Linked DNA regions of Homo sapiens: region 2 is linked to region 1. The links come from fine-mapping of genetic effects on gene expression. Tissue or cell type: whole blood. Region 1 holds a variant in brackets; the other region holds the start of a gene. All regions are shown on one strand. Distances are between the middles of the regions. Region 1 overlaps WDFY3 (WD repeat and FYVE domain containing 3). Region 2 holds the start of WDFY3 (WD repeat and FYVE domain containing 3).

Region 1 (16,483 bases):
TCTCATCGACCTCTCCTTGTCAGCGTTCTTTCCTAGTTCCTCCTCTTCTCCCTGACCTTTAAAGTTTAGGTTGTTAGCCTTCTTCTCTAACCCACTGGCAAGTACTATTGACTTTATCTACAAAAATACTGAGAATCTGACCACTTCTCGCCACTTGCATAGTTACTATTTTGGTCAAAGTCTGTATTGTCCCTCACTTGGATTTTTGCCATAGGTTAGTAACTGGTCTCCCAACTTCTACCCTTGTCCTATTTTCAAGTCCTTTCTCATCGAAGTAGCCAGAGTGATCCAGACAACCTAACATAAATCATAAATCGTATAACATCTGCTCCCAAAATCTCCCAGTGGCTTCCCATCTCACTCAGAGTAGGCCATTTTTTTAAAAAATGACATAAAAGAACCTATAAAATTTGGCCCCTATTACCCCTGACTTCATTTCCTACCAACTTCCTTGCCATTCTTTTTACAGGCCAGGCACATCCTTGCCTTGGGGCCTTTATACTTGCTATTCTCTCCCTATATGCTTTTCCAAGAGATGATTACAGTAGACCCTTCCTTATCTGTGTGGGTTGGGGGTTGGATATGTTCCAAGACCCCCAGTACATTTTTCCCCATGCATATATACCTGTGATAAAATTTAATTTATAAATTAGGCATAGTACTCTTATGCTTTGGGGCCATTATTAAGTAAAATAAGGGTTATTTGGATATAAGCACTGCGATACTCTGACAGGTGTATTTCCCTTCTATTCCTATTTGTCTATGTCCTTCCATGAAAATGTAAAATCTATGAGGGCAATGGTTTTGTTTAGTTTAATGCTACAGCTCCAATGCCTAAAAAAGAATCTGGCACATAGCAGGCATCCAATTAACATTTTTTAAAATAAATAAACAGTTACTCTCTTAAGGCTAAAAATGGGAATCTTTCCTAGTTTATAAAACAAGATAATCTAAATAATTGGGGGACAACAACTAGATTTTTGATGTAAAAGAATCATTCTAAAATTTCTTCAAAAGATAATTGATAATGATGATAACCTCAAAATATTTTATTAGACATTGTAACTGATACTTCCATAAATTTGATAAATTAACAAATAGTTCCCCTTATTATTAGGTTTTAGACTCTGGCCGTCCACAGAATGACTCATTTCTTTCCCACTAACTGCTGTCATATTTAACAATGGTTGGCATGCAGGGCCGTAACACCAGCACACAGGAAAATATTACAAAAATGTTCATTCCAAACTGGTTCCAGAGAAAGAACCAAGCTCTTTATAAATGAGGAAAGTCTAAAAATAAAGGGCAGATATTTTTAAATGTTTTCAATATTTTGTTTGAAAATAATTCCAAACTTACAGAAAAGTTAGTAAAAATACAAAAATCACTCATACTCAGATTCAGCCATTACTAATGTCACCTCTTTACTTTTACATTTGTGCTCCTGAGCTTTTACACTTTCTTGCATTCATACACACACATGCACACATACACTTTTTTTCCTGGAGCAAATGAGAATAAACTATATACATCAAGCCCTTTCCTCCTCTTCTTCCAATGTGTGTTTCTTTAGCAATACTTTCTCTTATAAGGAAAGCACAGTGATCAACTTCAGTAATTATAACATTGTTACAATATTTTTATCTATTCTATGGTCTATATTCCAATATTCTAATTTTTCAATTGATCCAATAACATCCTGCATGGTATATTTTCCCCCATTCAGTATAAGATCCAGTCTAGGGTCAGGTACTGTTAGTGGTTCTCTCTTCTATGCCTCCTTTAATTTGGAACACTTCCATAGCCTTTCTTTCTCTTTTATGACACTGACTTTTTTAAGGACCACAGTTCCCTCCCCGCTTTTTAAAGTAGAACATTCCTTATTTTGCACTTGTCGAATGTTTCCTCGTGATTAAATTCAGGTTATGCAGTCTTGGCCAGAATACTACAGAGGAGATGATGTGTCCCCTCAGGGTGTCCTATCTGGAGTCACATGGTGACCATCTGCCCCATATTGTTGTTGGATCGCACCAATGCATAATCACTATATTATCCCTTGCAATTAGTACACAGTCTGTGGGGTGATGCTTTAAGACATCGAAAATATCCTGCTTCTCATCAAAATTTCTCCCTCATTTAGTTATGACTCTTGCCCTACCTAATATCTACTACGCTAGCTACAAAATAATGATTTTTCCAACTCTAAAGCTCAGAGTCCTACTGGAAGAAAGAGCCTTCCTTTCTCCTCTATTCATTCACTTATTTTTATTATCATTATGGATTTATTCCTATTTCTAATGGTTCATAATTTATTATTATACTTACTTGATTATTAAATTATCTCAAATTTGGCTAGCAGGAATGCCAATAGGCTTCTTGTGACATGTTCTTATTTAAAAAAAAAAAGTTTCTATTTTCTCGCATTGAAAAATAATCCAGGCTCACATGGTATGTGCCCTACCCTATCCTAGAATCATCTATTTCTGTGAGGAGCTCTGGTTCCTTTGACTTGAGAATGGTATTACAGAATTCTAATTCCAAGAATTTGGAGTTAGGTATGCTCTTTGCCTCTTAGCCCTTTTACTGGACAGAGCTAGGAAATGTATGAATGCAAATACACATACAAATTTATGTACATATGTCTGTACATGCAATTACATGTACATATATATTGGCTTAAAACATCATGAACTCACTGATACCTTCAATTCCAATCCACCTGCACAGAATTTATTATGCCTTCTCCCACCCCATATTTGTGTGTCTCTCCTTCTTCAGGGAGAACCCTCACTCCAACAACCTCAAAACATTTACTCAATCCCCAATACACCTAAAAAGTCCCAGAAGTGCTATGTCCATATCACTATGAAAAGTAAACCTAATAGAATGAGTTCAAGAGTTGCCTGCAACCCGTCTCTTTCAACTCTACCCAAGCTGACGGTATATGGTTATAGTTATAGCACCATGTTATTAGTAATAAATTACTTAGATTTACTCTTTGTTCCCTCAATGGGGGTACAATACTAATTTAAAATACATTCAGGTTCATTTGTTTCAGTGGATTAGGATTCTCCCCATTTCCGTCCTTATTTTGAATACTGAAAAAAACACACTATGAAAAGCCAAAACTATATTTTTTAAAAAAAGGTTTACTTTGAAGTGTCATTGCCTCCCATAAACCTCTGGCCCCATTACCTCTCACTACCCCTTCTTTTTGTAAAGTCAAGCATATATATGTATGTGTTATTTTCCCTTTTTTCTTACATAAAAGATAGCACACTATATATTCTTGTTTATACTAACCAGCACAATCCAGATTGAAGAAAGCTCTTCCCAAAGCCTTTTATAAGATACAATATCCTGATATCAAAACCAGACAAAGAGATTAAGAGAAAAAAAGACTAGAAATTTCATATTTTTTGTGAACATAAATGCAAAAACTTTTAACAAAATATAAGGAAACCAAATCTGGCAACATATAAAAGGGGTATTACATCATGATGAAGTGCATTTATCCTGGAAATGCCAGGCTAATTCAATATTCAAAAAATTAACATAATTTACCATTATCAATAAAATAAAGATTAAAAACCATATAATCTCAATAGATATTTTAAAAATCACTTGCAAAATTCAACATCTATTAATGATAAAAGCTCTACTAAACCAGGAATAGAATGAAACTTACTCAACCTGATAAACAGCCTCTTTAAAACAGATATAGCTAACATCATGTTTAATGAAGAAAGACTGAATGCTTTCTCTTTTTAACATATACTAGAAATCCTAGCCAGTGCAATAAGGCATGAAAAATAAATAAAAGGCAAAAATGGAATGGAAGAAGTAAAACTGTCTTTATTCCAGGCAGCATGATTATATATATAGATAGAAAACCCCAAAGAGTCTACCAAAGAAACCTCCCTAAGTTAATAAGGGAACTTGGCAAGACTGCAGTATACAAAGTTCAATATACAAAAATCAATTGTGTTTCTACATATTAACAATGAAACAACTAAAAGTTATAGATAAAGAGATAGATAGATAGATAGATAGTACCATTTATAATAGCACCCAAAACACATGAAATGCTGAGGAGTAATTCTAACAAACTGTGCAAAATCTGTCTACTGAAAACTATAAAACAATGATGAAATAATCACTAATGAGATAATCATTGATAACAATGATGAAATAAACCAAAGATGACTTAAGTAAATAGAGAGATACTCTATGTTCATGGATTTGGAGGCAATATATTCAAGGAATCAGTTCTTCCCATATTTACCTATAGATTCAATGCAATCCCAATCAAAATTAGAGTAGACTTTCGTTTTTGGAAATCAACAAGATGACTCTAAAATTTACACAAAAAAGAAATCAAGAATAGTCAAAACGATTTGGAAACAAAACAAAATTGGAGGACTCATATTACCTGATTTCAAGACTTACTAAAAAGCTACAGTAATCAAGATAGTGTGGCAGTGGTAAAAGCACCTAGATCAATGGAAAAGGACAGAAATTCCAGAAACAGATACACACAAACATGGTCAATTGATTTTTGACAAAGATGTCAAGCAATTTAATAGGGAAGGAAAAATTTTTCACTAGCCAGTGCTACAGTAATCAGATATCCACAACCCAAAAATAAATAAATAAATAAATAAAACTCACAAAAACTTCAGTCAACCCACACATCACACACTATATACAAAATTTAACTCAAACCAAATCACAGACATAAATGTACAATCTAAAACTATAAAACTTCCAGAGGAAAACTTCGGGGAAAATCATTGTTACTTTGAGTTAGGCAAAAAATTCTCTAACAGGATATAAAAAGTAAAAACTATAAAAGAAAAAAATGGGCAAAGTGGACATCACCAAAATTAATTTCTGCTCTTCAAAACACAGTGTTATAAAAATGAAATTAAGCCAAAAACTGGGAGAAAGTATTTGTAAAACACATACCAGACTGGAACCCAAAATATATAATGAATTCTTTAAACAATAAAAAAAAAGCAAACTGATTTTAAAAAGAATAAAAGATGTCGACACTTACTTTTAAAAAAAGGATACATACAGCAAACAAGCAATGAAAGCTCACTACCATTATTTATGAAAAGCAAATTAAAACATTTTGAATGCTGCTATGAACATTAGCCTTTTTGTGGACATGTGCTTTCATTTCTTTTATAGATATACTTAGGAATGGAATTTATAGATCCTAATGAATATGTTTGAATTTATGAGACACTAGTTGACTGTTTGCTAAAATGGCTATACCATTTCACCAGGAATGAATGAGAAGAAACTTCTAGTTGCTGCATATCCTTACCAAACTTAACATCATCAGATTTTACATGCATTTGTCATTCACATATCCTCGGTAAAATATCTGTTCAAATTATTTGTTCATTTTTCGACAGGGTTCTTTGTCTTCTTATTATTGAATTGTGAGAGTTCTTTATATATTCTGGTTCATATCCTTTGCCAAGTATGTATATGTTTTGCAAGTATATTTACCAGTCTGTGGCTAACCTTTTTATTTTTTTTTAAATGGTGAAGCATGTTCATTTTGAGAAATTTCATTAAGCTTCAACTTACAATTTGTTTACTTTTACTTACGTATATACAGTAAACTTGAACAACATGGGTTTGAACTGTGTTGTCCAATTATATGTGGATTTTCTTCTGCCTCTGCCACATCAGACAAGATCAACTACTCCTCTCTTCCTCCTCCTCTTCGGCCAACTCAGTGTGAAGACAATGAGGATGAACACCTTTATGATGACCCACTTCCACTTAATGAACAGTAAATATATTTTCTCTTCCTTATGATTTTCTTAATGTCATTTTCTTTTAACTAACTTTCCTGTAAGAATACAGTATATGGCTGGGTGTGGTGGCTCACACCTGTAATCCAAGCACTTTGGGAGGCCGAGGCGGGCGGATCACAAGGTCAGGAGATCGAGACCATCCTGGCTAACACCCAGTGAAACCCCATCTCTACTAAGAATACAAAAAAACTAGCTGGGCGTGGTGGTGGGCACCTGTAGTCCCAGCTACTCAGGAGGCTGAGGCAGGAGAATGGCGTGAACCAGGGAGGCGGAGCTTGCAGTGAGCCGAGATCACACCACTGCACTCCAGCCTGGGCGACAGAGCAAGACTCCGTCTCAGAAAAAAAAAAGAATACAGTATATAATACATATAACCCACAAGATGTGTATAAATCGACGGTTTATGTTATCAGTAACACTATCAGTAATTAAGTTTTGGGGAAACCAAAAAAGTTATATGCAGATCAACTACACAGGAGGTCACTTCCCCTAGCCCCAACATGGTTCAAAGATCAACTGTACTTGAATAAATTTATTGAAAAACAAAACAAAACAAAAAAAACTGCTCTTTAAAGGTGACAAAATCATCATCAACTAGTAAATAGCCTAAGGGTGATACAATTTGGCCTACACATACTAAAAACTGGAAAATAAGTCTTTACACTACCAGTCATGAGCCATTCATTGTGTTGGGTCCCTACCAGAGGCACAGACATAAAGTCTAAAATTAGCAAGGAAGAGTAACTGTTGAAGGCCTCCCTCTTCCAATTTGACCT[C/T]TGAATTATAAACATTCCAGATTAGGATATATGGCACTTTTGTTAATTATAGAGCAAATTTTAAATGGAAACTTTAGGTTGATGGGGAAAGCAAAGAAATTCAACTTAAGTATAATTACATGAAAAACTAACTCGTGTAATGATTTTCAATAAGCACCTGATTGTCAAATACATATGCTAAAACAAACAATAAGACTCTAAATATCTTTTCGCTGACTGAATAAATAGCTTTATATAAGTATTATTTATTAGTCTTTAATTATTCCAAAATTATCACTCCTAACTTTAAGAAGCAAAAATCAGCCAGGCATGGTGGCTCATGCCTGTAATCCCAGAACTCTGGGAGGCTGAGGGGGATGGATCACTTGAGCTCAGGAGTTCAAGACCAGCCTCTACAAACCCATTCTCTACGAAAAAAATTAAAATAAAAAATACAAAAAATTAGCTGGGCATGGTGGCGCACACCTGTAGTACCAGTTACTTGGAAGGTTGAGGTGGGAGAATCACTTGAACCTTGAGGGAGGAGACTGCAGTGAGCCAAGATCTTGCCACTGTACTCCAGCCTGGGCGAGAGTCAGACCGTGTATCAAAAAATAAACAGGCTGGGTGCAGTGGCTCATGCCTGTAATCCCAGCACTTTGTGGGGCTGTGGCGGATGGATCATCTGAGGTCAAGAGTTCAAGGCCAGCCTGGTCAACATGGTGAAACAACGTCTCTACTAAAAATACAAAAAATTAGCCAGGCATGGTGGCTAAGACAGGAGAATTGCTTGAACCTGGGAGGCAGGTTGCAGTGAGCCGAGATCACGCCACTGCACTCCAGCCTGGGCAACAGAGTGAGACTTCCTCTCAAAAAAATAAATAAAAATAAATAAATAAATAATACATATAGTCACTGGATGTGGCTGAAAGTCTTAAGTTTTGGGAACTTATAGAATATATTATTACTTCTGTAGTAGACACTTCCTGGAGTAGCTGGAAAGCTTATAATCCTTCCCTTTTCTGTGTCATGATCAATGGCCTTGAAAAGATCAAAAGATAAAAAAGAGGGAGATTCTCAGAATAGCTACTTGAATGAACCTCTCACAACAGGGTCACAGCCTAAAAAAATTCCTGTCCCATGTGTATGTTCACCAGAATTCTGCTAACAAATCAAAATACAAAGCCTCTTAGTAATTGAGTGGATAAGATGACCCACATCACAGACCAACTCATACTCCTCCAGCCAGCCTGGTCCTTGCTCAATAGGTTCATGAAAACCACCAGGTGGAAGGAGAAGCAGTTATGCAAGGGCAAATCTGCACGAACTCATTAAGACTGATGTCACTGTCACTACTGTTGAGAACACATTTGCCTGAGTCCCCCAAAGAGAGACTACTTCTTAGCAGGTAAATTATAACAAACCCTTTGCATTACAGAAATGGTGATGGCTGCTTTTCACTATAAGAAACACCAATTCTGAATTTGTCTCTGCCAGCACCACCATTCAAGATTAAGTGAATGCTTCATATAAATCACACTCACAGGGCCTCTGATCCAGGAACTCACTTCAAATGGTGATGGGCAGATGCCCAGGGACCTCACTAGTCTTATCAAATAGACTCTTATTCAGACACAGCTGTCCTCACAGAGGAGTAATGGCATTTTGAAGCTTGACATGCAAGTTGTTGCGCCACCTGAAACCTTCTGATATTGGGGTGCTGTCCTATAGTACATAAAATAAGCTCTGAACCACCCACTAATATATGATGTCTCCCATCCTCCCATCTCCGGAACACACTGGATGTGGGAACGTGGTGATGGTGGAGGTGGTATATTTCATCTGCTTTCAAAGTTCTGCTTCTTGTCTCAAGAACTCTGGAATCTGTTGATCTAGAAATTTTATTTAGTACCCAAGAATGAAATACTTATACCAAGAAACAAAATAACTGTTTCACTCAATTGAAAGCAGAGTTTTATTTCCTCATAACAATAAAAAAACAAGCAAAAATGGAGGCTATAGAATTGACAGAGGTGACTGCTCCTGACCATCAAGGAGAAGACAGGTTGCTACTGCACACCTGGGGCTAGGAAGATCATGAGAAAAGAACTTGGGGGAATCTCATATTCTCTGGCAGTGCCGTACACAGTGTTAATGTGAGTGAAAGATTATCACAATTCTATACAGTTGGAACTACCAAACCTCAGACCCTTTTGGGAATGAAGGACTGAGTTAGCTTCCTAGAAACAGAACCCTGATAAGCCAGGACACTAGCAGAAGGTAACAGAAATATGTAATCTGAAGTGAAACAGGTTAGGGCTTTGTGCTCAGATGTAAAACTAAGGACTGTGGCCACCATTTATTTCCTTAATAGTCACTGGTGTGTGATAAGTACCCTTCTCTTTCCCTTTAAATACATTTTCTCTTTATTTCCTCTTCCTTTCCCTCAAGCATGCAGATGGCAAGTTGGCAGGAGTTAAATTTAGGTTGTAAAATATCAAGAAAGAATCACAATGGAACCAGGAGGCAGCATGATATCACTCAGAGTCAGTAGCCCTATGGCACTGCCTCTGGATATGGTACTTCAACTTGCTTTTTGCTTTTCTCCCACTGGAAAAACTGCATCAATACATGGGATAGCAGGGTTATCTCTACTAGTGGGGAGGAAAGCAAAGGGAAAGAGACAGGAAAAGCAGTGGTTAAGCTACCAAAGAGTGAGATGTTCTAGACACCTAGGAGGGCTGCCCAGCTTTTGACTTCCCCTTCTTTGGGAATGACCCCCAGCACCGAGGTATATTCCTAGCGCGCTATACATCATAAGTCTGCATACCCTGGCTCTAGTACAGACAGACACCTGATCTGAACGAGGTTAATTTAATCCTTTCATTTTTTGTTTTTTTTTTTGAGACAGAGTCTCGCTCTGTTGCCCAGGCTGGAGTGCAGTGGCGTGATCTCCGCTCACTGCAAGCTCTGCCTCCCAGGTTCATGCCATTCTCCCGCCTCAGCCTCCCTAGTAGCTAGGACTACAGGCACCTGCCACCACGCCTGGCTAATTTTTTTGTATTTTTAGTAGATACGGAGTTTCACTGTGTTAGCCAGGATGGTCTCGATCTCCTGACCTTGTGATCCACCCGCCTCGGCCTCCCAAAGTGCTGGGATTACAGGCGTGAGCCACCGTGCCCGGCCAATTTAATCCTTTCTTGATGGAATATATAAATTGAAGATGCAAGGCAGAGAGAGACTAAATCTTTACAGCAAAGTCACCTTAATAGCAGGAGTCTAGGAAGAAGGTATAAAAATTCCTGCTAGGGGCCGGGCACAGTGACTTATGCCTGTAATCCTAGCACTTTGGGAAGCCGAGGCGGGCGGATCACGAGGTCAGGAGATGGAGACCATCCTGGCTAACATGGTGAAACCTCAGCTCTACTAAAAATACAAAAAATTGGCCAGGTGTGGTGGCACGGGCCTGTAGTCCCAGCTACTCGGGAGGCTGAGGCAGGAGAATCGCTTGAACTCGGGAGGTGGAGGTTGCAGTGAGCCAAGATTGTGCCACTGCACTCCGGCCTGGGCAAAAGAGCGAGAATCCGTCTCAAAAATAATAATAATAATAATAATAATAATAAAAATAATAAATAAATAAAATAAAATAAAATAAAAATTCCTGCTAGGCTGGGCGCAGTGGCTCACACGTGTAAACCCAGCACTTTGGGAAGCCAAGGCAGTCAAGATCGCTTGAGTCCAGGAGTTCAAGACCAGCCTGAGCAACATATCAAAAAACCCCACATCTACCAAAAAAAAAAAAAAAAAAAACATTAGCCAGGCATGGTGGCATGTGCCTGAAGTCCCAGCTACTCAGGGGCTTAAGGAGGGAGGACCACTTACTTGAGCCTGGAAGGTAAAGGCTGTAGTGAGTCATAATCATGCCACTGTACTCCAGCCTAGATGAAAGAGTGAGACCCTGTCTCAAAAGTAAATAAATAAATAAATAAATAAAATTCCTGCTAATGAGATCCTCAAAGCAACTCTGATATCTTCTGTTCAAGACCCACTTGTTCAATCCATCATTCCATTCCCAGTATGAGTCCCATTAATTCCTTTTCCCCTCCTCAAGCTAGTAAGTGTCAACTGACTGCAACCAAAAAAATGCTACTATAACTTTTTATAGGAAGTAAATGAAAGGTGTGGAGGTTCTCATTTTAAGGTCAATTTATCATAATCATGCATTTTCCTTGCTTCCTCTTATCCAACTCAGAAAATAAATTCCTAAAGGGTAATTTTGCCTTCCAAAGTGTGACATGAGAACCCTCATGCCTAACATGCTTTTTCATATCCTCCTATTTCACAAGAAAGCATATTTACTTCAGTGTGTAAGTTTGTTCATTTTAGCAGCAGTTCCCTGTTAAGACGTTAGTATGAGGCATCAGCAGTTCTTTGCATCTCGTGATGCCATACCAATGCCAATAAAGCAGACTAAATGATTACTGATCAACAATACTTAATAGTATATAGAAAAAAAAAGATACTTAGTAGTTCATCAAAGAATGTCAAGCCCAGCCTGTCTCTGCTCTCCAAGTGCCTGGCTTCGCCTGTCACTTAAATCCTAGATCACCAATACGGACTTGTGATAGAAGATGTTTTTGCAGTTTCGCCCCAATCTTTAATTCTGGATCAAGTCATCACTAACATTACCCAGCCTTCATACTGCAGATTAGATAGTTAGGATTTCTAGCTCGTTATGATGCCTACCCTGTTCTACTCCTTCCCCTTCTGCTGTCCTTTTCCTGTTTATAGCTCAGCTATTATAACTAAGCTTCTGCTTAGACACTTTTGGAGGTCCCTAGTCTGATCCCTTCCTGGCTTTTCTCTTCCTAGGACTGAGCAGTCTACTTTAAATTCCCAATCCCAAGGACTGATAGCTAGAGTCCAGTACCCACAGACAGAATTATCTGGTGGCCACTCATACATATATAAGCATGTATGTTTGCATTCATTTCGTCATTTACACACACACACCCTCCTATTTCAGATTCCATATGCTTCTTCCCCTTGAATTCCCATTAATAGGTTGACTGAATTATTCTCTGGCTGTTTACCCCTGGCACGGCCTACCAAAAAGAACTTTTCCTCAGCGCCTGTAGTTAGTTAAGGTTAGATTGACCTTAACATGCAGCACTATACCTTAAATGTGGACTGATTCTAGTCTGTCCTGCATAATAGTTACCTCTGCCCTACTCTACAACTTGGCCATGTGCTCCCATATCACAAATACAACAAAGCTCTATCAAATTTTGAGATATGGAAAAGGTAAGCAAGCTCACAGAATTTTAAAACAGAAAATATACAAAAGAAAAAAGTTATTTTCTAAATGGCATAAGCTGGAAACTTGGCAGTATAGTACAATTAAAACAATAACATAATATAGGAAAGAATCCCACACATTTACACGCCCAAATTTATTTTTCAATCACCAGATAAATTTTAAAATAGGAGAAATGACAATGACTACATTACATTTTGTAAATATGTTCTAGATTATAGCATATTGAAAAGGCCATCTGATTCCCAAGAGTTCTAGAAGCAATTTCTTAATGCAAAACTTAAGGTATATCAGAGCAATGAAAGAGTATATATATCTAGTCACATAAATCAGTGCCTCTTCTGAACAATGCTGAATTCTTCTCTATGAAACTTATTCAATTTCTAATTCTCTTTAGTGCCAAAAAATGGGACTCCTATCACTTTCTCCAAAATCTACTTTTGTTATTAATATTACACCTTCATTAAAGTTGTTTCCTCTGCTTTCTCTACAACCTTGATTCCTAGCTAAAGATCAAGCCACAGATGGGATCACCGCCAAAAAAACTACCAAGTAGTCGAAAACTCAAGGACAAAAGTAAATATATTTACCTCAGGCCCCTTATAAGCCAACAGAACTGCAGTAAGAACAAGTGCAGTAGATAATAAAGAATTCTAAATACTGTGGCTAAGGTGGGAAGCCAATGACATCTCAAAAATAGATGCTGTTCGCGTATGTTTATTGCAGCACTATTCACAATAGCAAAGACTTGGAACCAACCCAAATGTCCACTGATGATAGACTGGATAAAGAAAATGTGGCACATATACACCATGGAATACTATGCAGCCATAAAAAAGAATGAGTTCATGTGCTTTGCAGGGACATGGATGAAGCTGGAAAACATCACTCTCAGCAAACTAACACAGGAACAGAAAACCAAACACCACATGTTCTCATTCATAAGTGGGAGTTGAACAATGAGAACACATGGACACAGAGAGGGGAACATCACACATTGGGAGCTATCGGGGGTTGGGGGGCAAGGGGAGGGAGAGCATTAGGACAAATCCCTAATGCATGAGGGGTTTAAAACCTAGATGATGGGTTAATAGGTGCAGCAAACCACCATGGCACATGTATACCTATGTAACAAACCTGCATGTTGTGCACACATATCCCAGAACTTAAAGTTTAATAAAAAAAAAAAAAGGTTACATTATTTAATATAGGCTAAACTAGTATATGAACTCTTTGAAAGAAGTAATAGCATCTCATCATCTTAATAATTTTAGGCGGGCAAGGTGGCTCACACCTGTAATCTCAGCACTTTGGGAGGCCAAGGCGGGTGGATCATGATGTTAGGAGATCGAGACCATCCTGATTAACACGGTGAAACCCCGTCTCTATTAAAATACAAAAACTTAGCCTGGCATGGTGGCATGCGCCTGTAGTCCCAGCTACTTGGGAGGCTGAGGCAGGAGAATCGTTTGAACCCAGGAGGCGGAGGCTGCAGTGAGCGGAGATAGCATCACTGCACTCCAGCCTGGGCAACAGAGGGAGACTCCAACTCAAAAAAGAAAAATAGTTTCAGCACACAAAGTAGACACTGAATAAACACACTGAATGAAAAAGTAAATCAAGAGTTGAGATGGTTAGTAAAGTGTCAAATGTACTCAGCTTATACTGCAATACAATCACTGCAGAATGTCAATTACTAGGGAGGGCCTTACCCTAAGGAGACAAAGTGTAATGTAAGTGCTGAGAAACTCACTTTTTCCAAAAACTACTCCCTATTCATTAATAAACACAATGCAAAATGCATCTCACATTGGAGATTAATTTCATGTACTCTTTCCCTCTTGCCAGGCAATTATTTACCTCTATTCTAATTTTATATTCCTATGACCCTTTCCTCACAGGATGCTTAATATTTATCTTTTAAAAGTCCATTTTATTACTTGTTTATTTGAATAGGAATTCTCTGTATTTCGGGCATCCGGGAATGAGTTACTGGTCAACATGTTTATCTTCTATTTTCTTCGTTTGTTTTTATCATATTTTTTCCATCAACATGAACATACAAAAATCTTCAAAACTGCTGTTCACAGACATGCTTTCCTTTGTAACAGAAGTCACAGTGGGTTGAACTCTCATGAAGAAAACAGATTATCTGATGCCAGAGCAGTCTTTACTAATTTAATTACTTTACCATCTTTAAAAATTTTAAATAAAAATACAATTTGTATTGATCCTTTAAATGATAACAGATGATGTAATATAAAAAATCTAACTTAAAGCCTGTGCACAATACTTACTTCTGCTACTTAGAAGTATGATATATATCTATATCTCAACAACATGCCACACATGCTATATAGTAAAATCACTTCTAAACTTTAACAAAACTCAAAAAAGCACACAGATGTGAACGTAAGCCATGCCCGATGTTAAATAACAAAACCAAAGTAACAATTAGATACTGCAATGCAACCAGTTTTCTTCCATTAAAATAGTGCTTGCCAAACAAAATCTTCATTGGACTGGAATGATGCTTTGCCAGATGACATCAGGATAGGCAAAGCCACTATTAAACCCTGTGCTAAAGTGGGTGTCAATAAGCAGGGTAGGAAGAAGAAAGGCTGGAATATGAGGAGACTTTTAAACATCTATCAACATTGGCAAGCCACAGTCAAAAAGTAGTTCATTTTTGATGAAAGTTTTAGTCAGGCTGAGAAAATTGAAAGTGCAAGAAAATCCACAGAGAAAGAAAAATCAGCCTTCTAAGAAAGACACAATACTCTTTTCCAAGCTATGAATAGAGATGACAAGTACTATTACCTCAGAAAAGCAATGCAGTACAACTTTTCCCTGCCCTGCTCCAACCACACAAATACCTATCAGTGGTAGTAGTGGCCTTAATGCATTTTCAGCAGCTGCCATGTCTTGACAGGCTTCCTCACATCCTCCTGAAAGTAAAAACACCTATGCCAACCCATGTGGTGGTTATGCAACCTAAGACAAGCTGGGAATCACTGAACTTATTTACTCTGGTGACTCAGATATAAATCTAGGTCTCTGCGGAAAAAGAGGTGGAGAACATAAAAGAATGTATGACACCATTTTTCATTAATATTTATTGTATAACTGAAGCAAACTCAAAAGATTTTCTGCTCTCTATAGGTCTGACAAAGAAATTAGCTTTCAGAAATGCTTCAGGTTTGACCAGGTACAATGTACCATCTGCTATACTGAATGACCTGAGGCAAAAACAACACCCCTTTATACAGAACTTTTATTTTCTCTGTCTTTTTCTTGCTTTCCTCTCATCATGTTGCCATTCACCAACATCTTACTTTCCCTTCTTCTTCCAGCTTATTCTTTAAAGCCTGCCACTGACAGCTACCACTCAGCAATGCTGAACTCCACAACATCAAGAAATTTTTTTCGATGCTATTCCACTCAGAAATAATTTAAACATTGCAACTTCAAAAAATAAAACAGCAAAATAAATACTCATCTTGACCAAAAAAAAAAAAATTTCTGGATTTAGCAAATTAAGTGAAATATATAAATTACATCTGTCATTAATGTAGCAGATCAAACTTAAAAAGCATACATGGTAGATTGGTGCAGCCATTATGGAAAATAGTATGGAGGGTCCTAAAGAAATTAAAACTAGGATTACCTGTAACCCAACAACCTTTCTTCTGGGTGTATACACAAAGGAAATGAAATCACCACCTCTAATAGATGCATTCCTCATGTTCACTGCAGCATTATTCATTATGGCCAAAGTATGGAAACAACCTTGGTATCCCTCAACTATCAAATGGATTAAGAAACTATGGTGTATAATAAAAAATGGAATATTATTCAGCCTTAAAAAAAAAAGAAGGGGATCTTGTCATTTGCCACAACATGAGTTGACCCGAAGGATATTACACTATGTGAAATAAGCCAGACACCAAAAGAAAAATATTGCATGATCTCACTTATTATCTGGTATCAAAAAAAAAAAAGGTCAAATATTCACAGAGACAGAGAATAAAACTAGTTATGAGGGTCACGGTTGCGCAGAGGAAATGGGAGAGGTGTCTCAAAAGATACAAAATAGTATATATGCAGGATGAACAAATCTAAAGATCTCATTAACTGACAATGTATTGTATTCAGGATTTTTGCTAAATGAGCAGGTCATAGCTGCTTTTGACACAGGGGAAAAATGGGTAATTATGTGAGATGATAGATATGTTCATTTGTTTCACCATTGTAAACATTTTACTACTTATGTTATCTCATAACATCATGTGAATATCTTAAATATACACAATAAAATGTATTTTTTTAAAAAAAGAATACATGCTAGGGAAGTCATACTTAGTACAATTTTTATGATGACCTAGTTGTAAAATGCTTCAGGAGCAAGAGTAAGATTCTCATATTATAAGTATTTTTTTTCCTAAGTATCTTACATTATCCCTAATCCTTTTCTTCTTTACTTAAATATTATATTTGGGCTAATATTTTTCCCCAAGAAACCTGTTCTGATTCACTGAGAGTGAAATCTATCAATTTTATATGTCCTATAATTT
Region 2 (16,483 bases), 21 kb after region 1:
TTCAAAAGCTTCAAGTAGGAGACAGGAATGCATCTCTGCCATGCAGAGGATGCAATCTAGGCTCAAACACACTGAGCTCAGAAGTCAAAGTCCTAACACTGGCCTACCCAAGACTAATGACACCTCCATCACCTTGACCTCATGGTTCACCTCCTTCCAGCCAACCCCTTACTGTTCTGTGAATGTGCCAAGCACCCTGCTTCAGAGCCTCAGCACTTGCTCTTCTCTCAGTCCTACAATTCTCACTCCCTTGGCTGCCTCAAATCTCTTCTAATGGACCTTTACAGAGAGGCCTTCTGATTCAGACCTCTATAAATGGCAAACCCACCCATACTTTAGCACCCCAATGATTGTATGATGTCACTGACAGTTATAATAATATAGTATATAATGTACTATGTATTATAATAATTGACAATTATTGACAGTACAATTGACAATAGTAATACTTGTTATCTACTCCCCTCACCACTAGAATTTAAGCTCCCTGATATAGCGCTATCACCCAGCACTGTGCCTAACAGACAGCAGACACTCAAGTCTTTTTTTAAAAAATGAACAAATGAATGGCTGTCAGAGATGTGACTGGAGAAGCTGGAGCCAGGTTACAAAGAGTTTTTTATAGACTGCAACCCCATGTTTTAGCGCCTCTTTGATAATGACTTAAGATCTATTCAAGAATTTTAAGCAGAAAAAAAAAGGTATACTGGAAAGACCACAATTTCACATTTTAAAAAATTAAAACAAAAAACAATTCATTTTGGAAAGAGTGTGAGGGTAATCTATGAGAAGACGTGAGACTGCAGTTAAGTAGAATATTTAAAAGACCTCTCTAATACTTCAGCAGGGAAATACAGGCCCCAAAATTGTCTTCTGGCAGGTGGAGGTTGAAAATGATAAACATTTAGAAGATAAAAACAACTGGACCTGATGCTTAATTAAATGTGAGACGTGAGGAAGACTGAGGAGTGGATGATGACTGCCAGTCTCAATCTAGTGACAGAACAGGTGCTAACAGCATTTACTCAAGCTGAGGAGATAGGAGAAGAAAATACATTTTGGAAGAACGATTATGAGTTACATTTGGGCCATGCTGAGGTTGACATGCCTGTGTAAATATCTCAGCAGATATGTCTAAACCAGCAGTTGGACATATCCCAGCAAAAAATCAGTGGTTCAGATGTCATTAATACTTGTCACACAAACAAAACTTGATGAACTTCATGGCAGCAATAAAAATCAAATACACTTAACTAGGAATAAACATTACAGTATTAGATGAGAATTAGCCTAAATGTTAAAAAAGGAAGGCTATAATCTTATCTATATTAACGCTTCTTACAAGATCTGGGGATGAGTTCAAAGATAATATGATCGAATTATGTCAGTCTATGAATGTTAGAAATAAGCAAACTACCAAAAAATACCTCAATAGTATAGTAAATGTTTGTTTTTTTGGTTTTTACCCTAGTTTTACTTCCCATTAACCTTCCTAATTTCAACTGAGATTGGGTAGGGGCAATAAATGTAGGCTTTAGAGGCCTGTTATTTGAAAATAATATTCCTGATATGTTTGCTATTTGCATTTTCTCTCATCTCTGGATAACTGCACATTCTATTAATGCTACACAGCCACTTCCCCTAACTACTCAACCTCCAGATTTCTCAATGAAGACAATGCTTCCTCCTGGAAGTCCTTCCAAACTTTGAAGTCTGAGTTCCATGCCCACCCCACCTCCACACCATATGTACCTACCTACAGCATCCACACCTCACGTATGTGATACCCTATTCAACAGTCTCTTCCACTCAACTGTAAGCTCTATCATGATAAGGACCTTGAATACTACATGCACAAGACATTCGTGTATGTATACGAACAAATGTATGAATCAATGACTGAACAAATTATCTATTTTCCGTGAGAACTGTTGAGATGTTTAAACAAACATCTTTCATTATTACGGGGTACTCAAACTGTGAATATAGCTATTCTTATTTACAGTCTAACATGACTATGTATTTTACAAGGTACTCTTCTTATTTTAAAAAAAAGAAGGGGTCTCACTATGTTGCCCAGGCTGGTCTCGAATTTCTGAGCTCAAGCAATCCACCCACCTTGGCCTCCCAAAGTGCTGGGATTACAGATATGAGCCACTGCAACTGGCAGGTTACTCTTCTAAGGGTTTTATTTCATATCATCTTCTGAATGAATGATATCTTATTCCAACGGGGCAACCCAGTATTCTACTACTGAAAATTAAATGTTGATATGAGCTATGTGTAATTTAATCCTTTGTCCACACTAAAACTACGTGAAATTTCAAAGACAGATTTTGGCCAGGCACAGTAATCCCAGCACTTTTGGGAGGCCGAGGCGGGCGGATCACAAGGTCAGGAATTCGAGACCAGCCTGGCTAACATGGTGAAACCCTGTCTCTACTAAAAATGCAAAAATTAGCCGGGCGTGGTGGCGGATGCCTGTAATTCCAGCTACTCGGGTGGCTGAGGCAGGAGAATCGCTTGAACCCGAGAGGTGGAGGCTGCAGTGAGCTGAGATCATGCCACTGCACTCCAGCCTGGGTGACAAAAGCAAGACTCTGTCTCAAAAAAAAAAAAAAAAGATTTTGATACTGTGGTTTCAGAAAGAGTAGTAACTAACTTGACAGTCCTCAAGATTTTAAAATAAAGAACAATTCAATGAGTTTACAGAACTTGGTGAAATCCCATCAAAGCAAATTGTTGGCATACAGGGAGCCACAAAGAATCTTTTTTTCCCTTTAAGTCCAAGTAAAATTGAAAAAAAAAATTCTTTATGATAAATTTTTTAATTCTAATTTTCTAAACAAAGCTTTATCTACCTGTTTAAAATGGTTCATTTTTTAAATTGCTAACAGCTAAGCATTAGAATAATTCCCTAATGATTATTCCTTTACAAAAAGTAATTTTAACAACATGAAAGATGAGTGCACAGTAAAAACTCAACAAACAGCCTTTAAAGGCTGCAGCCTTCATAGTGAGATCATAACTGATGCCCAAGCTAAAGAAAATTATTTTTTTATAAATATCTATCATAAACTTTCTATACTGAGTCTAAACACTACTGAAAATAAGAGTAAAAAAATTTAAAGGAGATCACTACACATATAATAAATGGCTAAAGTTTTAATAACTGACAATACCAAGTGCTGATAAAGATGTAAAGCAACTGAAACTCTCAGATATTGCTGTAGGAATGTAAAATGATATCACCATTTAGGAAAACAATTCAGTAGTTCAATAAAAAGGTTACTGATATTAATAAATATACACTTATCCTAGGACTCAAAAATCCCACTCCTAGGTATTAACTCAAGAAAACTGAACATTTTTGTCCCTCACATAGACCTGTATGCAAATGTTTATAGCAGCTTTATTCATATTTGATCAAAACTAGAAACAACTCAAATGTCCATCAGTTTATGAATGGATGAACAAATTGTGTTACCCTGGTGTAAAACAATGTTACTCAACAAAAAAAGGAACTGTGCTGGAGCTGGCTGGTACCAGCTCATGGGAGCCCATTGTTAAATTTTCAGGAATTCTGTAAGCTGGTAGCTTAATTTAGGCCATAGTGACAGTGTTTACACTACAATGATTAGCGAATGCTATAAATCAGAGATTCTTTTTTTTTTTCTGAAGAGTATGTTGTTAAGACATTTCCCAGCACATCACTGAACAAAATACTGACACATGTAACAACTTAATAAATATCAAGCATTACGCTAAGTGCAAGGGAACACGAAAGGCTACATAATGTATAATTCCATTTATATATGCCAGACGAGATAAAACTTTAAGAGCATCAATTAAATTAACGGTTTTCAGGGGCTGGGAGTGTAGAGGTAGAGGACTGACTCATGACAGGGCATGAGTGAACTTTTTAGAGTAACGGAAACGTCCTTTTCTATGTCTTGACTGTGGTGGAGACTATCCAATTATAGACATTTGTTAAACTTTTACTTTCACTACATGTAAATTATGCTTCAATAAACATTACTCTAAAAAATTAAAGTAGGAGCCATTTCTTTTTTTTTTTTTTTTGAGATGGAGTCTCACTCTGTCACCCAGGTTGGAGTGCGGTGGCGCCATCTCAGCTCACTGCAACCTCCACCTCCCCAGTTCAAGCGATTCTCCTGCCTCAGCCTCCCGAGCATCTGGGACTACAGGTGCACACCACCAGGCCAAGCTAATTTTTGTATTTTTAGTAGACACGGGGATTCACCATATTGGCCAGGCTGGTCTTGAACTCCTGACCTCAGGTGATTCATCTGCCTCGGCCTCCCAAAGTGCTGGGATTACAGGTGTGAGCCACCATGCCCGGTCGCCATTTATTTCTTAATCATTTCATGGATGATAAATACACCACACACACCAAGGGGGAACTGGATTTATCAGTGTAAATATCAGGAAGGCAGATTTTGACTCGACATAAATAGAAATATAGATTTAAAATGTAAAAACAAACAAACAAAAAAACAAAAAAAAAAAAACGGCCTGGCACGGTGGCTCACGCCTGTAATACCAGCATTTTGGGAGACAGAGGCAGGCAGACCACTTGAGCTCAGGAGTTCAAGACTAGCTTGGCCAACAGGGTAAAACCCCGTCTCCACTAAAAATACAAAAATTAGCCAGGCGTGGTGGCGAGGGTCTATAGTCCCAGCTACTTGGGTGGCTGAGGCACGAGAATCTCTCGAAACCCGGGAGGCAGAAGTTGCAGTGAGCCCAGATGATGCCACTGCACTCCAGCCTGGGCAACACAGCAAGACTCCATCTCAAAAGAAAAAAAAAAAAAGGTCAAGAAAAAAAAAAGAAGAGGGGAAATTCGTAATCACAGGAAATACTAAAATCAGAGGTGGATGATCCTGCCAAAGATGCTGTAGAAATGACCCTAGTTCGGGTGTGATTTCAGACTAGCATCATTAACAGAGGTTAGTATCATTAAGATCTCTTCATACTGGGGGTCCAGGGCTCTAAAATCTTATGATATTGTATGCTATGATAATCTCAGATATACTTTGCAATTCTAACTAAAACATCAATTACTTATTTTAACATCAATCAAATGGTATTACCGATCAAAGTCTAGTATACCCTGTTTATGAATGCTGGCTCTAACTTCAGACAGTCTGGGTTCACATGTTGGCCCACCAGTGTTTGTATGACTTTAAAACAACTTGTTCTATTTCCCCATCTGTAAAATGGGATTAATATTTTCCTTCGATTTAAATGAGAATGTGTTAGAAACAACGTCTATGTGCTGAACTCTTAATCACAAACATTTCTTGGGCATAATCAGAAATGAAGGACATAAATCATCAAATGTAATTTAAAAATTTTAGCTTTCCAAATATGGAATATGTATTCTTTAATTTTATATCTAGAAGTTCATAATCTTTTACAGACCCATATCCTTTTGAGAATGTGATCACCCAACAGAGTCTTTATCTAGGAAAAAAGCAAATATATGCTATATTCTGCATATGATTTCTGGGAAGCCAAGGACCCTCAGAAGTATATGCATGAAATTAAGAAAGAAGCAGGGCATGGTGGCTCACATCTGTAATCCCAGCACTTAGAGAGGCTAAGGCAGGAGGATCACTTGAGGCCAGGAGTTCAAGATCAGCCTGAGCAACACAGGGAGACCCTCATCTCTACAAAAAATAGAAAAATTAGACAGGCATGGTGGCATGCACATGTAGTCCTAACTTCTTGGGAGGCTGTGGGAGAAGGATCACTCGGGCCCAGAAGTTCAAGGCTGCAGTGAACCGTGATCGTGCCACTACACCCCAGCCTGGGCAACAGGGCAAGACCCTGTCTCTAAAAAAAGAAATAAATAAATAAATTAAGAACAACTGATGTAAACTTTTAAAATTGCAAAGTTGAGCAGTGGAATTTAAGAATCTCTTCAAAGCAGAGAATCCAACTAATATTGAAATATACTGTCATTTACTTTTTCAAAAACAGATTATGCAAGAGTAGAACATTGTATTTTCTAACTTATCCCTCCTTTTTGGAGGTGATACAAATTTTTTGAAACATTTTTTTTTTTCTTTACAAAAATTGTTTTCTCTTTGTTGCCCAGGCTGGTCTCTAACTCCTGGCCTCAAGTGATCCCCCAGCCTTGGCCTCCCAAAGTGCTGGAATGACAGGCATGACCCACTGTGACCCACCAAAAGCATACATATATTTCAGATGAATCCATTTTAACTCATGGAAAGAAACTAGCAGTAGAAACCTCTTTCTAGCAGCTTGAGATAGAATGGTTCAAAGTATTAACATACTTTACTATTGCTCAAATATCATAGGAAGAGTTCTCAATTCTAATGCAATATATATTTTTAAACATAAAAACATACCAACCTAATTCCTATACTTAAGAGTCTCATGATAAAGTTTTATTTTTTTTAAAGTCGGATTTTTTTACTAGACTTATGCACTAATACAACATGTTTTTCTATAAATTAGCACATTTTTAGTTCTGTTTTATGTTATGTTTGTTACGTCGCCTGATAGTCGAAACCAGTTGTTCTCAACCTGCTACCAAATACCAACCTGGAAATATGCCACTATTTAAAAAGCCCGAAGAATAGGGTTTTGTTTTTCCTTTTTAATTGTTTGGTGTTCAAACTACATAGTAAACCAGTTGGCAACCATTACTGAACAAAAATAGTTTTTCGTATGCATGAGCACCATTTTCCAACAGAAAACACTTAACCATTTTTAAGGTACTGGAAGTCCATGCAAGGGTTCACATATGCAGTAAATATCCTTTCAATCTGGTTGTATCACATTGTTTCTGTGAAAGGAAGACCTGATATTGCAGATCTCACAATTAAATGGTAAAAATCAATGAAAAACTGCACCTGAGGCTCAAACACTAGCCAGATGGCCTTTGGTTGGAAAGGTCTCATCTGCTTCTTAAATCCCGCCGTAACTGTGAATGTTTGCGATGCCACCACATCCCCAGTACAAGAGAACTGGAGCATCTCTGGCTCCTTCCATAATCGAAGGGCTTCCAGCGTAGGGCGTAGGGGGAGAGGCCCGAAGCCCTGGAGACAGCGCCCGAGGGATGGAGGCCGCGCTCGGCTGCGCTCAGGTCCGGGTGGCTCCGGGAGCTGAGACCCCGCAGGATGCAGCGGGGGGGGGCCAGGGCCTGATCCCCTACCCCTGCGAGCCAGGGCCGCCTACGCCCCCACTGCTTCCCACAGGTAACGTCCAGCCCTCTCCTCCCCTATCCCCCGAAATATCCCGGTTCCGCTCCGCTCCGCTCGCCGCCCGTGACCCCGACCCCGACCCGTCCGCGACGGCGCCCTCCCCAGGAGGCAGCGGAGGACTAGGGCCAGGCCGCCCACCCTGGCGGCGGCGGCGGCTCCCGGCCAAGGCGGACCCTGGGGAGGACAGCAGCTGGGCCGCGGCCTGTCCCTAGGGGGAGCGGGCGCAGGGCCGCGAGTGGGCAGCGCCTCCGCCCCGCACGAACAAAGCGGCCAGGCGCGCCGGGCCGAGGCAGCACCGCCTCTCCGGGAGCGCGGGGGGCGGGGAGGATGGCGGGGGTACTCACCTGAGGGCCGGCGGAGGGCGCGGGCGGGACAGGCCCAGGAGACGGGACCGCGGCGGGCCGGGGCTCCGCGCCGAGGGCGCACGGGCTACGGGGAAGGGGCGACCGGCGCGACGTCCGCGGCGGGGCCCGGGAGCCCCGCGCCGCGGGCCGGGGGCCGGGGCCCGAGCTCGATTCTGCGGCCGCGAGGTATGGGAACCGGTCCGCCGGGCCAGGCAGCGGTGCTAGGCAGCAGGGGCAGCGACGCCGCCGCCTTTCCCTTCTCCTGCCCCCGTCCCTGCTCCGCCGCGTCCTCGTCCTCGCTGGGTCCCCGCCGCCGCCGCCTCAGCCTCGGCGCTCCTCGGGTTTCTTCTCTCCATCAAGGCCGGGCCGACCCGCAGGGACCATCCCGGAAAGTGAGGGGTTGTTGCCGTTTCCCGCAGCTGTTGGTGGCCATCTTTAATCCTCCTCCTCCTCCTGCTTTCTCCACCTCCCGCTGGCTGTCTGACTGACTGACTGGATCCTCCTCTTTCCCCTCCTGCTCCTCCTACTGAGCCGGCCGCAGAAATTGCAGCCGCTCAGCTTCTACCCCCTCCTGCCTTTCCTTCCTCTTTCCTTACTTCCTTCCCTTCCCTCGGCTTCCCGCTCTTGCCTCACTCTCAGCGGCTGCCTTCGCCCCTGTCTGCAGACAGCGCCGCTGGATGCTCCCAGCTGGACTTCAACCCCACTCCTCTCAGTCCCTCTCCCCACTGCCTTCCAGACGCGCCTCTTCCCCGCCCCGCGCCCCTCTCTCCTCTCCCACCCCTGCCCCTCTCCGCGGCGCTCACCCTCCTCAGTCCCAGTTTCTGAAAGGACTCAGCTGAGAAAGGACAACTGGGTTCCGCTTTCCTTAACCCTACACCCTTTAGCTGGATGCTGTCAGAGGCGATGGAGAAACGCAAAGGTGCGTTAATTTTACTCTAGCCAGAGTATAAAAGAACTGCCCACGCCAGCTATTGTACTACGCAGCTTCGAAACTCCTGCACGCTCTCCTGTGTGGCTCCCGTCCGTGATGGGACTGTAGTTGAGGAGCTCGGTCTCAAATGGTGCCTTCCGTCAGTGACCTTGAGTCGGTTGCCTAAGATTTTAGATTTTCCTTTTCCTTCCTGGGAGGGGCATTATTTATACCTTTGCAGTCCCACAAACAGTGTTTAGACCAAATAAGTATCCTTTAGTAAACCTAGAACTGCCAAGTGATCATCATTTTGCCCGTTTGTTCCTACTCAACCCAGCAGACAATTTGGGTCACGCTTCAGTTCTGGCAGTAAAGACAAACTGAGTCAGCAGTTAGGAGTGGACTCCCTTAAACAACAGAGTTAGAGTGGGGAAGTGGTCATAACATCGCTGTAATCACAAACTTGTTTTTCCTAACACTGCAATCTACAGAAGTTTCAGGATTTCCTCTAATAAACATAAGGCAAGTTGGATTTGCTGTTTTCTTCTTTTTGACGATTTTGCCTTTAGAGTTGGACCCATTTGTAATGATTTACTCGTCAATTACTCCAAGATAACAAAGTTGGAGGTAACATTGCTAACAAACACAGGTGATATATATGAGCACTTTGTGGGGGGGGGGTGTCACAGTTTTTCTTCTGTGGGGCACTGGCTATTAAAAAAAAAAAACACCTTGCCCTTTCAAAATAAGACTAGTGTGTTCAAAGGTTAGTCCCTTAAACAGACCAAATGTGGGCAGAAATGTTTTTAAATGTAGTTTTAGATTCTACTTCAAAATGAGTAATGTTTTGAAAGTTCAAATATAAGATTTTGTAATTATAACAATTTAAGAGTTTCAAATCTCTTTGAAAAGAATATGCCAAAACAAACCTAAAAATATATTTTAGTAAAAATACCGGTATCCTTTGGTGGGGGGCGGAGCAGAATTCTAATATTTAATCCTCACGAAGTAACCTTAATTAACTGTTAGGTTCAAGATTTCAGTTGCCATCTTTCAATGCCAATAATTTTTCCATTTGAAATCAACAACCTATACTAACATCTACAACTCTTTTAAACCCAAATAAAGTATTTGAGACAGCATTGTACAATACGTTTTGAAATAAATTATTAAAAACAAAGCACCTATGTGGGGGTGTGTGTGTGCATATGCATGTACATGTACTTTTTTTGTTCTTTCCCTTTGGCCTTTTGGTGTTTATTCTTTATTTAGATTTTGTGTTCTTCCAGTCTATTTCTAGGCAAAATACCACAAAATTCTTGACTCTTAAATATTCACTTATAAAACTGTATGTATAATAATTGGAGAAAAAAGAACGTTAGATAACATGAATATACACTGCGAAAATAGGCTGACTTCTTTTAAACATTAAGACCACCATGCATTTTTAAAGGAAGATTTTCAGTTAGAGGTTTCAGGACTCTTGTCATTGTGATTTTATTTACACTGAGGGAGGAAGAGTTACATTTTAAAATACTATAATTATATTTTTCTGTTAAAACATATATTGCAATAAAGTTCACAAATCTATCAGTATGCAAAAGCAGCCGTTTTCATATTAATGTCTTACAAACTCACAAAGGTTTTTCAGTGATAGACATAAAAATAAATGTACCAAGTTTTTTTTTTCTTTTTTACTGAAGCCACATAAACGTAAGTACTGTAATAATGGAAAAATCAGACCCTTCACATTTACTTTTTTACAGCTCTGTCATCATTACAGCCTTTAGTCTTTGTTGCTGGCTAACTGTAGTTTCACTGTCATCTTAGGAATCAAGTACGAAAAAAAAATGATCAAATCAGGTTTTCCTGCAACATGATTATTGTTTCATATGTATTCACTCTCAGATAAAGTCAAGGTCCTCTATAAAACAAAGAATTGTGTTAAAGTGGGATAAACCCTTTGTGCAGAGGCCAGATGGAAAGAGATCTAGGCATGTGCAGCAAACTCCTCTGGGAATAGAGGAGCAAGCATGAAGGGCTATTTCTAAACAGTTCTGCACTGGGAGGCTGATCTCCAACTTACAATTCATGAATAAGGTGACTGTGGAGAATGATAACCAAGAGGCTATCTGTGACAATAAGCAAACAACCCATATTTGCTTTTAACATGATTGAAAATTCTATGAACATGAATGAGTGAAACATAATTTTAAAGGAAGGAAAATGGAGATAAAAGGTTCATGAAAAATATCTAAAAGTAAGAGGAAGAAAAAATAATAGAAAACAGCAATTTTGGAAAATTGTTAAATAATACATATTAACAGTTTGCTATTTAAACAATTATTTTCTTTATGTTAACTTTTTGTTAACATGTTTGCTTTTAAGACTATACAGGAAATAATTTAAACTTGGTCAGGTAGCATTATCCCAGAGATGAGCATATGTAATTTATAGAATTTTGAGATATTTATTCCAGAACATAGAGTGCTAAATGATGCTGGGACACAAAAATCAAAAAGAATGGAAGTGTTAATTGACATATTTAAAAATTACTGAGCCACTATATTACATATTATATTAAATATACATTTCCATTTTTCCAGGCTACTAGACGCAACAATAGAATTACCATATTGTTTTTCCTGGTTTGAAAGGACCAGATGGAAAGAAACTGGGCAAGCCAATGAAAGTCTCTGGGGATCATGGGAATTGAGTGTCTATGAAAACCATATTCCAGACAAGAATATAGTCTAAGGTAAATGTTCTCATAATCTCCATTCTTTAGAAAAGACAATATTTCTGTTCTGCATCTTCCTCTTTAGGTGGACTGTCAAAAATATCAATTGAATAATGACAAGCCATATTTATCTGCACTGATTGAAATTTAGTATCATTCTTCACTCCTCAATTTATAGAACTACTTATAATTAACTGATGAGCTGTCCCTGAGACAGTGCCATTTATAGTCATTACTGCACTCTAATTGGGGAGAAATGCTTTTAGAAAGTTCTAATTAGAGATTTTTTCTGTTGTTTTTCTTATAAATACATTCAAAAGAGGTATTGGAGAGTTTGTTTTGTTTTGGGAAGAGGCATGTGTGTAGCTCGATGTATTGTTTCTCTTTATACTTAAGTAAGTAATATGTAATAAAGCTTCTTTAAACTTTAAAGAGTAACAGGCTCACAGGAGGAAACAGAATAGTATCACGTTTTGCCCTTGTTCATCATAATTATCAGCATTATAATAGAGATGGGGGATTGAAGACTTTTGTTATTAATAAATTCTATTTCTACTTAAAGTTAAAGGTCCTCTTCATTTTCAGTTCCTTTATGTTTCTCTATGGAGAGTTCAGACTTTTAAAACCAGTATATTTACAATGTTTTTACAAGATAAATACACTTCACCCTTGAACAACACAGGTTTGAAATATGCAAATCCACTTCTATGTAGATTTTCTGCCACCTTGGCCACCCCCCTGAGACATCAAGAACAACTCTTTCTCTTCCTCCCCTTCTCAGCTTATTCAACCTGAAGATGATGAGGATGAAAACCTTTATGATGATCCTTCTCCACTTAATGAATAATAAATATATTTTCTCTTCTTCATGATTTTCTTAATAGCATTTTCTTTTCTCTGCCTTTATTGTAAAGATAAGTAATACATATACAAAATATATGTGAATCAGCTTTATGTTATCAGTAAGGCTTCTGGTCAACAGTAGACTATTAGTAGTTAAGTTTTTGGGGATTCAAATATTACACACAGATTTTCAACTGCACAGCAGCCAGGGAGGGCAACAGCACTCCTAACCCTGGCGTTGTTCAAGGGTCGACTGTATAGTAGTATACACATTGAGCATATTTCACTCATTAAAAATTCTGGTGAAAAATTATTCAAATGGCTCACTATAGATCATCTAGTGCAAACTTTGTAGCAATTTGAATGAAATCCAGGTCTCCTGACTCAGTCTCAAGTCCCATAACTTCAGAGTTGACAGGGCTCATCTTAGAGGAGAGAAACTCAACCAAAGAAACTTTTAACTGTGCCATCTTCAGTTAAATATAATTTAAACTTAATTTCCAGAATTAATGTTCAGCGTTGACCTTTCTTAGAAATAAAGCTAAGGAATAAAGTAAATAAACAGGGTTTTCCTGTTTACAAAAATGAGAGCAATTGTTTGCAATTAATGTAAAAAGCAAATTTAAAGATAGCTTAAGAAAGCTCAAGTTGACTAAAAAATGTGCGATTTTTAAAAACCTAAAACAACTCCTATAACATTTATTTATGGTTCAAAAAGTATAAAGTTAACTCAAAAATACTGTGTTATTTCATGGATTAAGTTAAAAGTGAGTGTTGCAAGACTCAGGAAACAAACCTCAGTTAGCTAAATAAAGTAAAACACTGCCATCTGCTGACTAGAATGAAAAATTAGTTGGTCTTTTACCATCTGTAACCAGCGAGAGGTCTGTTAATTTATTCCATAATTCTTTAAAGTATGCTAAAAAGCACTATGCTGGGTGATACAAAATTACTCAGTCTCCTAGATGGACACCTAGGACTATATCCTATGCTACTGTATTAGTTAGGGTTCTCCAGAGAGACCAAACCAATAAAATATAGATACAGATACAGGAGAGGGGATTTATTAGAATTGGCTTATGCAATTATGAAGGCTGAGAAGTCCCACAACAGGCCATCTGCAAGCTAGAGACCCTGGGGTGCCAGTAGCGTGGCTCATTCCAAGTATGTAGGCCTGAGAACCCAGAGGGGAGCTGGTGTGAGTCCTGGTATCCAAAGGCTGGAGAGCCTGGCATTCTCATGTCCAGGGGCAGAAGAGTGTATCCCGACTTCAGGACAGAGAGACCAATTCACTTTTCCTCTGTTTTGTTCTATCTGGGCCTCCAGCTGATTGGATGATGCCCACCCACATTGAGGGTGAATCTTCCCCACTTAGTCCACTGAGACTCACGCTCCAATTGCCTCTAGAAACACCCTTACAGACACACCCCAAAATTATGCTTTATCACTTCGCTATATATTCATTAATTCAGTCAGGTCAATACCTAAAATTAATCATCACAACTAGCATGTGGTGGTGGTTGTTATCATTATTCAAACAGGTAATTCTGACCATAATTAGTAATGCAGCAATAATAGGGCTTAAATGTAAATGAGGAAATAAAGTTATTATTTGGAAATTTTGAATATAGAAAAATTTTACATTAAAACTTACTTAAGGCTGGGTGCAGTGGCTCACACCTGTAATTCCAGCACTTTCAGAGGCCAAGGCACACAGATCACTTGAGGTCAGGAGTTTGAGACGAGCCTGGCCAACATGGTGAAAACCCGTCTCTACTAAAAATACAAAAATTAGCTGGGTGTGGTGACGGGCACCTGTAATTCCAGCTGAGGCTGAGGCAGGAGAATCACATGAACCTGGGAGGCGGAGGTTGCAGCGAGCCAAGCCGAGACTGCATCATTGCACTCCAGCCTGGGCCACGGAGTGAGACTCTGTCTAAAAAAAAAGGACATTTAAATTGTATAACTACAGTAAAAATAATTTGGAAAATAAAATAATGTAAAGTTTAAGTCATGACCTAATTACTTCACTCTGCAAATATTTGAGTGATTGCTGTGCCAGAAACTAGATTGCCTGCAAGAGATATAATAAAAACCTACTGTCCACCTTTATGGAGCTCACAGTCTAGAGAAAGATATCAACCAGGAATGATAATGTCTTAAGAACTATAACAAGATGGTACAGGAGTACCTCCTGCTGCTCCAGTGGGGCACACAAATTATTATCAACACATATAAATTACAGTCTAATAAGTATTTGCTCCTGTCCTCAATTACTATAAATAATCCTTGGGCTTATTCAAGAACTGTATTTTGAGCTTTCCATCTGAGTGGAGTTTTTGTTGTATTGCTTTACTCAGAAACCTCAAAAGGTTTATAACACTTCAATTTCTCCCGTTCCCTGCATCAAATCCATTACCAATGATTGCCAATTTTACTTCCAAATAACTCTCAAACATGAACACCTCTTCCCATTTTCTCTGGCACTACCCTAGTCTCATATTTTCAACTGAGATAACCTTTTATCTAGTCTACCCACAGTCACTTGAATCTCTTCCAATCCATTGTTTCCATTTACAGATTTTCAGTGGTTCTTAGGACCTGGCATAGTTGGCCAACCATCCACCTCTCGAATGTCGACATGATCCATAATTTAATGCACTTCCTCTACTGCTATTACCCTGGCATGTTCAGTCCCTTCTCCTTGACATGCTCCCTTCGCCACATGGCCTTTGCACAATCGATTACCTGCCTCTATTCTTCATCTACTTTAACGATGTCTTCACTGAACTAAGTCACAAATCCCACCATTAAATTTTTCATAGAACCACTCAATTTTCCTTCATAGCACTAATCACAGATGCAGTTTTATAGTTTTTTATGTTATGTGGTTTATGCCTATAAATTCAGTGAGGACAATGACTGTGTTTTGGCTCTTTATTGGTCCAGTTTTGGTACTACCATTTTACATTATAAAATTATTCCACATCATGGTAGAGAAGTTTTGAATCAAGCAATTGACACCTATCATAACTTAACAAAGTACACACATTTAAGGAATGAATAAAATATGCTGGATTATTGATGATTCCAAACACATTTAATTTATATTTTTTTCCTGTTTATTTCATGTGTTATGACAAGACTAGAAAACATGTTTGTTTCCTTTAACACTGGCTACTGGACCCTGCTCTCCTAATCAGAATGTGTGCTAATTTGAGGGCACTCTATCCTCAAGGCAATGTCATATTTGAGGAGCAACTGTGAATGAAGTCAAACATTGACCTAGTTTTTTTTGAGATCTTCTCTATCACTGCAATATTTTGTGTTTCCTCTTTTGCTCTTCCTTATCTCTTGACATTTCTGCCACCATTATATAATCTTTAAAAATCAAGTTCCTTTTTTGCTGTTGTGCTTTTGAAACTTCCAGATAATGGGATGGGGTAGAGGGACACAATAACAAACAAAATAACCAAGCACAAAACCTACAGTTACTTTATTTAAAAATTTTCCTCAATAGCTTGTGTTTCTAGATAAAACCAGTCACAAACAAATAGAGTTATATTTACTTGGCTTATCACGAAATTAAATCATTCTGAATTCATAGTGAGACTCTATAAAATCAATTATATTATGTATATAATATCACTCATTTTCCTTAAAAAATTTTTTTTTAAGTAGAGACAAGATTTCGCCATGTTGTCCAGACTAGTCTGTAACTCCTGGGCTCAAGCGATCCTCCTGCCTGGACCTCCCAAAGTGCTGAGATTACAGGCATAGGCCACCACTCCCAGCCTCATTTTAAAAAAAATAAATCCAAGTTTAATTTAACGACATACTATGATGGTTAATTTTATGTGTCAGCTTACCTGGGCCATGAAATATCCAAATATTTGGTTAAACATCATTCTGGGTGTGTCTTTGAGGATGTTTCTGGATGAGATTGACATCTGACTCAGCAGACCAAGTAAAGCAGATTGCCTTCCCCAATGTAAGTGGACCTCATCCAATCTGTCCAAGGCCCAAATGGAGCTAAAAACGTGGAGTAAGGGAGAATTTACTCTCTGCCTGACTGTCTTTGACTTGGAACATCAGTCTTATCCTGCTTTCATACTTGGACTCAGACTGGAACTATATCATCAACTGCCCTGGGTCTCCTGCTTGCCAACTGCAGATCTTGGGATTTCTAAGCCTCCATAACCACCTAAGCCAATTCATTATGATAAATCTATGTATCTATGTATTATCTATATATCTATCTATCATCTATCTATGTATTATCAATCATCTATCGATCTATCTATTCTCTATCTATCTATCTATCTATCATCTATCTAATATTCTATTTCTCTGGAGAACCCAGACTAATGCACATACCATGACATTAAAT

What was found. PIP is the estimated chance that this variant, and not a neighbour inherited with it, causes the effect.
Region 2: it holds the start of WDFY3, and the variant in region 1 is fine-mapped to the expression of WDFY3 in whole blood (TOPMed, PIP 0.94).

Annotation. Positions count from the first base shown.
Region 1 is chr4:84,937,329-84,953,811 of GRCh38, forward strand. The region is part of intron 1 of WDFY3 (WD repeat and FYVE domain containing 3); the gene reads right to left. Among named protein-coding and RNA genes, the nearest start is that of WDFY3-AS2, 20 kb to the right of the region's middle. The variant C/T (reference allele first, on the strand shown) is at 6,614.
Region 2 is chr4:84,958,609-84,975,091 of GRCh38, forward strand. WDFY3 (WD repeat and FYVE domain containing 3) reads right to left here and starts at 8,082. Exons shown (of 68, transcript NM_014991.6): 1 at 7,601-8,082. WDFY3-AS2 (WDFY3 antisense RNA 2) reads left to right here and starts at 7,008. Exons shown (of 4, transcript NR_152775.1): 1 at 7,008-7,250; 2 at 11,117-11,268.